2 linked regions of the Homo sapiens genome follow. The protein of the gene in region 1 interacts with the protein of each later gene in a pairwise test. Each region holds a gene or a part of one and is shown in the gene's direction. Other genes may lie near its edges.

What was found.
Region 2: the proteins of GPX8 (region 1) and SERP1 interact in binary tests that used the Homo sapiens proteins (3 or more experiments, as listed by UniProt).

Annotation. Positions count from the first base shown.
Region 1 is NC_000005.10:55,158,167-55,161,766, forward strand, and holds the start of GPX8 (probable glutathione peroxidase 8), read left to right. Parts: upstream 1-2,004; 5' UTR 2,005-2,026; coding exon 2,027-2,230; intron 2,231-2,824; coding exon of another isoform or gene 2,825-2,827; coding exon 2,828-3,089; intron 3,090-3,600.
Region 2 is NC_000003.12:150,544,470-150,548,293, reverse strand, and holds the start of SERP1 (stress-associated endoplasmic reticulum protein 1), read left to right. Parts: upstream 1-1,797; 5' UTR 1,798-2,158; coding exon 2,159-2,242; intron 2,243-2,515; coding exon 2,516-2,591; intron 2,592-3,795; coding exon 3,796-3,824. Other genes in the region: EIF2A (eukaryotic translation initiation factor 2A), read right to left, coding at 1,464-1,491. UniProt on the Homo sapiens protein: Interacts with target proteins during their translocation into the lumen of the endoplasmic reticulum. Protects unfolded target proteins against degradation during ER stress. May facilitate glycosylation of target proteins after termination of ER stress.

The DNA of each region.
Region 1 (3,600 bases):
GGGGCCCAAAATGCTGTGTTTCTAACAAATGCCCAGGTGATGGTACTGTGGAAGGTCCCAGATCCCACTTAGAGAGCAAGGCCAGAGAGCTTAAGCAACATAGCAGTGTTCATGTCATATAAACACAGGGACTTTGACTTTTTAAACAATTCAGCCAGAGAACACCAAAGTAAAATTATCAGGAAGTGATACAACACATCTTACATACATTTTTGTTCTTTACTAGGAATTATGTTTAAAAGGGAATACTTTCTGCATAATCATTGCTTTTTCTACTGTATCCATTCTTACTGAGCCATGAGAGTAGGAGTCGAGCGGTTCCTCTCACAAGTTTTACACAGTAGGCTATGGGCTTTGCTCAGCCACCCGAAAACACACATGCCACAGAGCGGGAACCAGAAGAGCAGGCAGCACCCTGAGCACCCTCTCTGAAGCTCCACAAGCTAACAGTGACAGGAAGGGCACTCCACAAACATCTCAGCTCATTCCCTGCACTTTCTGGAAACACATCATGATCAAATGGCATAATGCCCCTTCATCCAGATCTTGCCATGAGTCTTAAACAGAGCAGAATTGAAAGTGAATGGCTTTTAGGATATACAGCCCTCAATTGCCTCCCCATACCTACCCCTAAAATTCATGACCGTTAGCAACAGCAAAGTTAGGCCCCCTGTGCCAGGCAACAGCCAGGGGAGGGAAATAAAGAGAAAAAACGAAGCAATTAGATGACGTGCCCAAGTAGAGGTGGGTTTTGCAGGGTTTGTTTGTTTTCAGGGATTTTTTTTGGTAGAATTGCCTTATTTAACTGTTAAATTACTACTTTATTATCGAGTTCAATTTTTGCTTTTTTCCCTCTTCTTCTTTTGTTCTGATTTTAAGATAGTCTCACTCTGTCACCCAGGCTGCAGTCTACAAACACGACTCACTGCAGCCTCAACCTCCTGGGATCAAGCGATCCTCCCACCTTTGCCACCTGTATAACTGGGACCACAGCCATGCACCACCACAACCAGCTAATTAAAATTCTTTTTTAGAGACAGGGGTATCGCTTTCTTGCCCAAGTTGGTCTTGAACTCATGGGCTCAAGTGATCCTCCCATCTAGGCCTCCCAAAGTGCTGGGATTACAGGCGTGAGCCACCATGCCCGGCCTCAGTTTTTTCCATCTACAGGTTGTAGTGCATCGGTGAATGATGAAATCATTTTGATAGGTCAGAACTGGGTTGTTTAAAAATGCAACAGGTGGGGGTGCATCACAGTTCAAAGGAGAAGTGTTGTTTCTCAGTTGTGTGTTGTTTGTACCCAGTTATGTTGTAAAGTGCACTGCTGACTGGGGGTCATGAGTAGAAATTTGAAAAACACTGGACTATAGTTTGCTCTATGATAGAGAAGGGTTTCTTTTAACACCTTCACTGTTTTTAACATATTTATTTTGACTGTATTCACTTGGTATTTGATTGCCTTAGCTAGATGAATCAGGGTAAATAGCCTTTTTCAGATATTTCCCTGCTCTTTCCACTATAAATTTCCTGAACTCATATAGCATGTTTAACCCATACATGTAATAGTAACGTCCTTCAGGGTATACACCATATGAGTAGGTCACATTTAATCTACATTCTAAACTATTGCTGAGCATCGTACTCCATCCTCTGCATCCAAACAGTTGCTCAATAAATACACAGCTTAGCATGGGGAATGAGCCCTCCGTAGCTTTCGAGTTACAAGAGCACCATCTTCTGGCGAAATATTTTCTTTGTAGGGAGAATGTCAAAGACCTACCAAAAATGTCCTGATTTTTCTAGCAAAAATTATAATTACATCACAAATACTTTGAAATTCTGTAGAGCTCCTTGCTTCATTCAGGAGTTTCGCTTCATTTCCCCTCTGAGAAGTGGTCTTTCTGTTCCTTAGCAGTGAAAGCAGTCAGCCTGTCCTTCCTGGTTTTCCGTTAAACTAAGCCGGTTTCAAGTTTCAGCTCCTCCTTGAATTCCAGGCTGCTGAGACTTCCCTCTAGAATCCTCCAACATGGAGCCTCTTGCAGCTTACCCGCTAAAATGTTCCGGGCCCAGAGCAAAGGTATTTGCAGTTTTGCTGTCTATAGTTCTATGCACAGTAACGCTATTTCTTCTACAACTAAAATTCCTCAAACCTAAAATCAACAGCTTTTATGCCTTTGAAGTGAAGGATGCAAAAGGAAGAACTGTTTCTCTGGAAAAGTATAAAGGCAAAGTAAGTTGCATCATCTGATTTTTATTGTTATCATTTTTCCTTGTCTCTGTTTATTCCTCTTAATAAAATCAATTTTTTGCTGTTACATGGTCATAAGTTGGAATTTAGTCTTCAGAGTAATGGTATTAGTACATCACTTTAGTTATTACAGTTCTGATAGTTTGCTTCTAAATAATAAATTCCGATTATCTCGTTTTCTTTAAAATGCTTTAATTTTGTGCTGAATTGACATGTAAAGTTGTTTGGAAAATACTTATAGTTAGTAATGTGAACATGATGACATTTATTAATAAAAGTATTGGTTCTATAATCTAATAACTTTAAAAAGAACTTATCAAGGATCATAGTTTTATCTTTAATTTAAAAATAAACTTTCATGAGTATCTAATGCTTTTTTAATGGCAGTACTATTTCAGGGCCTTAACCCAGGCATCTAGGTTACAGTTTTCAATAGAACTGTGTATGTCCAAAAATATGAAAAAAACATCAATCAGAGGTTATAGTCCCCCCCAAATTGTTTAGGATTTTAACTACTTGCAGAATTTTTTAAAATCTTTTGCTTCACTTTCCGGTTGGATTTTTTTCTTTTTCCGGGAGGTTTCACTAGTTGTAAACGTGGCCAGTGACTGCCAACTCACAGACAGAAATTACTTAGGGCTGAAGGAACTGCACAAAGAGTTTGGACCATCCCACTTCAGCGTGTTGGCTTTTCCCTGCAATCAGTTTGGAGAATCGGAGCCCCGCCCAAGCAAGGAAGTAGAATCTTTTGCAAGAAAAAACTACGGAGTAACTTTCCCCATCTTCCACAAGATTAAGATTCTAGGATCTGAAGGAGAACCTGCATTTAGATTTCTTGTTGGTAAATATCTGCCTTGCATATGCTGTTTTAAATTGCTTTTCATTTTTAAACAATTATACCAGGACAATACTTTCCTATTTCATTTGAAACGTTGTATCGGGAAAGCTTCATAAAACTATCATCAAAGAGCCAGAATCTCATCCTTTGTAACTTCTAGGAGTTATGCTCCCCTGAAATCAATGTTTTAGCTTCTTAGATGGTAAAAGAATTCTATTCCAATATATTTTATTCCTTATTACCATCTTCCTGAAGAATTTACTTAAAGTGTGCCCATGGCTATTTTCACAAAATATCTTAATTCTCCTCTCTTGTAACTAGCATCTGGAGAAATGTCCCTTCCCGTCATTATAGCCACACAGCTCTCATGAATAGTGCTGGGCATTATTAGTTAACATATGTTTGTGGCTAATTTTATGTTGTCTTTCTTATCTGAAACAATATTCTCAAAGATGAATATGTCAGCTTACCAGATTTTTGCTAAAATCCAAAAACATATAACTTGGTTTTTTCA
Region 2 (3,824 bases), on another chromosome or scaffold:
TTCACAGAGCAATGATATCTAAAATGAATTTTAATTTCAACAGATGAAAAAGAGTTTGCCAAATCAACAAGAGGCATAGGATAGTACTAGACTGAAGAAACAGGTTGTTCAAAGGGACTCAGAAGCAGTTCAGTATTGATGGAGCACCAAATAAGATGGGATGGCAAGGAAATAAATGAGTCTCAAGAGCAATTCAAAGATTATAAATGGTTACATAACTATGCTACATAGGATGGAATCTACCCTGTAAGCAGAGAGGAACTACCTACTGTAGGCATTTTTAAAGGAGGGGTTATTTATCAGATTTTAGAATGTAATTTTTTCATTAGAGTTCAAATAAGCATTTAGTATTAAAAATTGTGAATAACAAGCTACCTTTACAAACCTAAAAAAAAATTTATTATGTAACTTTGCCTTTTAAACAGTCTTTGCCTGGTATATTATCTAGAAGATTATACTCGGCGTTTGATAAATGATGACTAAACTGCAGAAGACAGACTGAGCATCAGTGGGCATGGCGCTTAATAACAAAGATTTTAAAATGTAAAAATAGAAATGTAGACTGGCAAAAAGTGCAAAAATGTTTTAAGGTTCCTTTCGCGGGGGGGAAGGGAGGGAATAGCCTCCCTCCTTAAATGCAGACAACCTTTCTCTTAATGACTTTTTCCTTCTATATAGTTATCAGAACTTAACCAAAACCTTCTTTTCCTTCCCGACTCTCTTTTCCTTACGTAATACTCATATGCAGACTCTTAGCCACACCCTAGTAAAGCAACTTCCCCAGCATTTTCCAATCTAAGTTTATTATCTCCTCCAACACTACAGTCTTTAGCTTCAAAATTTCAAGAGTCCTCTAATGTTCTATTTCTAATATGCTCATAACCATTTCAAAATCAAATGTTGCTAGAATATCTCTATCATGCTCACTGCTACACCCTCTCCCAACCACACCTTCATCATTTGAAACCTGCATTACAGCTCCACTCTCCCTATTCAGTCCTACAAACCTCATTAAGGCAGGAAGGCCAGAATCTGGAATTACTTAAGTCCAGGTGTATTTAAAGTGCGTGATCATTCTAGAGGACTAACTCATGTTTGTCTTTGTTCTTATTGTAGACCTAAATGACTTCACAAGGGCCCGTGTAACACCAGTATTGCAGACCCATGTGTCACAAATTCAACTAGCACATTGTTTTTCTCCCCCTTCTTCTATTTCTGTAGAAGATGAATCCGCAGGCAAGAATGATGGATGGGTGAAAGGGAGGGGGAATACGAAAGCCCAGAGGCGGAGACTTCACTTCCGATTGCCACGCTATATCAAGAAAGCCAACAGTCTGGCCTTTCCGCAAGCCACAAGAAAAGGCAGATCAGACTCCCCGGCTCCTCGGGTAGTTCTCAAAGGCAAAGACAAAAATAAGAAACTAGTCTGAAGAAAGAGAGTCCCTCGCTTCTTCAGAACTCACCTGTCAAGAGCGGCGTGGACGGCGCCATGTTGTCCCGGAAAGAGAAACCGCTCGGGTGAGAGTTCACCAGGGCCGAACCCGGCCCCTACACGTCTCCTCATGCGTGGAGACAGCGAATTGGTGTTTCCGGAGCCATCAGCCTCGGGGCCAATTCACTTCCGGTTACGGAGTGACGCGGAAAAGGCGCCCAAACGCGCACGCGCAAATCTAGGGCGACGCTTGACAGAGCTTGGGAGGGTGCGCCTGCTTTCGCCCTCCTTCTCCAGCGGGAGGGGCGCGCACTTCCGCGGGGCGGAGTCCGTCTAGTGCTGACGTTGGCAGCCGAACCCAAAGTAGATCGAGGCGGCGGGCTGCACATTCCCGTTGTTGCGTTGCGTTTCCTTCCTCTTTCACTCCGCGCTCACGGCGGCGGCCAAAGCGGCGGCGACGGCGGCGCGAGAACGACCCGGCGGCCAGTTCTCTTCCTCCTGCGCACCTGCCCCGCTCGGTCAGTCAGTCGGCGGCCGGCGCCCGGCTTGTGCTCAGACCTCGCGCTTGCGGCGCCCAGGCCCAGCGGCCGTAGCTAGCGTCTGGCCTGAGAACCTCGGCGCTCCGGCGGCGCGGGCACCACGAGCCGAGCCTCGCAGCGGCTCCAGAGGAGGCAGGCGAGTGAGCGAGTCCGAGGGGTGGCCGGGGCAGGTGGTGGCGCCGCGAAGATGGTCGCCAAGCAAAGGATCCGTATGGCCAACGAGAAGCACAGCAAGAACATCACCCAGCGCGGCAACGTCGCCAAGACCTCGGTAAGGAAAGAGCGGGCGCCCCTCTGCGTTCCGCAGCCGGAGCTGAGTCCGGGTCCCTGGGGCCGCGTCGCGTTTTCTCCCGGATCCGGCCGACCGTGGGCTGGTGCCGTGGAGGGGTAGGGGCCCGAGTCTGCGAACCGCCAGACTGTGGGGGCTCGGGAACGGAAGGGGAGACCTGTGAGGTGAGGGGGCCGGCGACCGGCGTGCAGGCGTGGGAGCCTGGGGTCCGAGTGGTTTCTCTGCATCTGAAATGGTGGATTTTCGCTTTTGCAGAGAAATGCCCCCGAAGAGAAGGCGTCTGTAGGACCCTGGTTATTGGCTCTCTTCATTTTTGTTGTCTGTGGTTCTGGTAAGTGGCTTGGGGGCTCCCATCAGGTAGAGTCTTGGGTTGAAAGGATTTGGGATGACGTGGTGACCGGTCAGTAGTGAGTCCTACCTGCGTAGTTCTCAACCCACCTGCCGAGGACTCCACATAATTCTGTTTCGTCTGAACCAAATTACTTGTTCCACATATGCACAGAGGGTGGTGCTCCAGAAACTTCTCCCAGCTTAATTTGTACTCACAGGAGATCAAAAAGGAGGTCAGGTCTTGGTAATGATCCAGTTGGAATAAATGTTAAGACCGGACAAAACCTAACGAAATGAGAATTTAGAATGTTTTGTAACTCCATTATCAGTCTTTGCAAAGAAAATTATAAATATGTACTATAGATGTTAGAACTTGATTTAACATATACCAGAATCTAATGTCTTAATGTCAAAATTGAGTATATTTTATAAAATAAAGCTTGTGCAAAGAATTGATTCACTATAGAGGAAATTACCTGATTGGCATTTTAATGTGTGAGTCAAATGTTTTTAGGTTAATAAAAGAAACGTTTGATACATGGTTTAAAAAAAAAGTGTCGGGGTAGCCTGCTGTCCCCTAAGAGTAACAGACACTTGCCTTTGCAAATAGATTACAAAAAAAAGGTCTTTCCTCTCTTCATTTATCATTTTAATATGCAAGCTGTTAATATTGAAGTAGATGTTTGTTTTCCACATTCTAAAATTACTGAGATTTCTGTTTAACGTTTCACTTTGCCTTTCTTCTTCACTTACCAATTGGAAGCTTTCCTGATAAATGGATGAGAGCCAAGCAGTTTATATAACCTGAAGATGATTGAATTTCAGCTTTGTGAGAATGAGGAAACATGCATGTGTTACAGGCCAGGCCTTAAAAGGATGCTTATAAACCAAAATAATTCTATGCTGGAAAAACCTGTTGGCTTTGGTGCTTTAAGTTCTTTGTAAAATGATTACTTATCTGCAAGTTCTCTTGGATACTTAGACATAAAGTTCAGCGAAGCTAAGATAAAAAAATAACTCAGGGATATTTCATTGTTTTATTTATTCAGACAGGCCTGTCTTCACTTCTTATTATACTGAAGTTATGTACCATTTGCAAATGTAAGAGTACCTTTGGATTCTTCAGCTACCTTAATAAATATTTGTTAGACACCAGACCTATTTTATTCAAAGCTTATTTTAATATTTGCTCTTTCTTTTTACAGCAATTTTCCAGATTATTCAAAGTATCAGG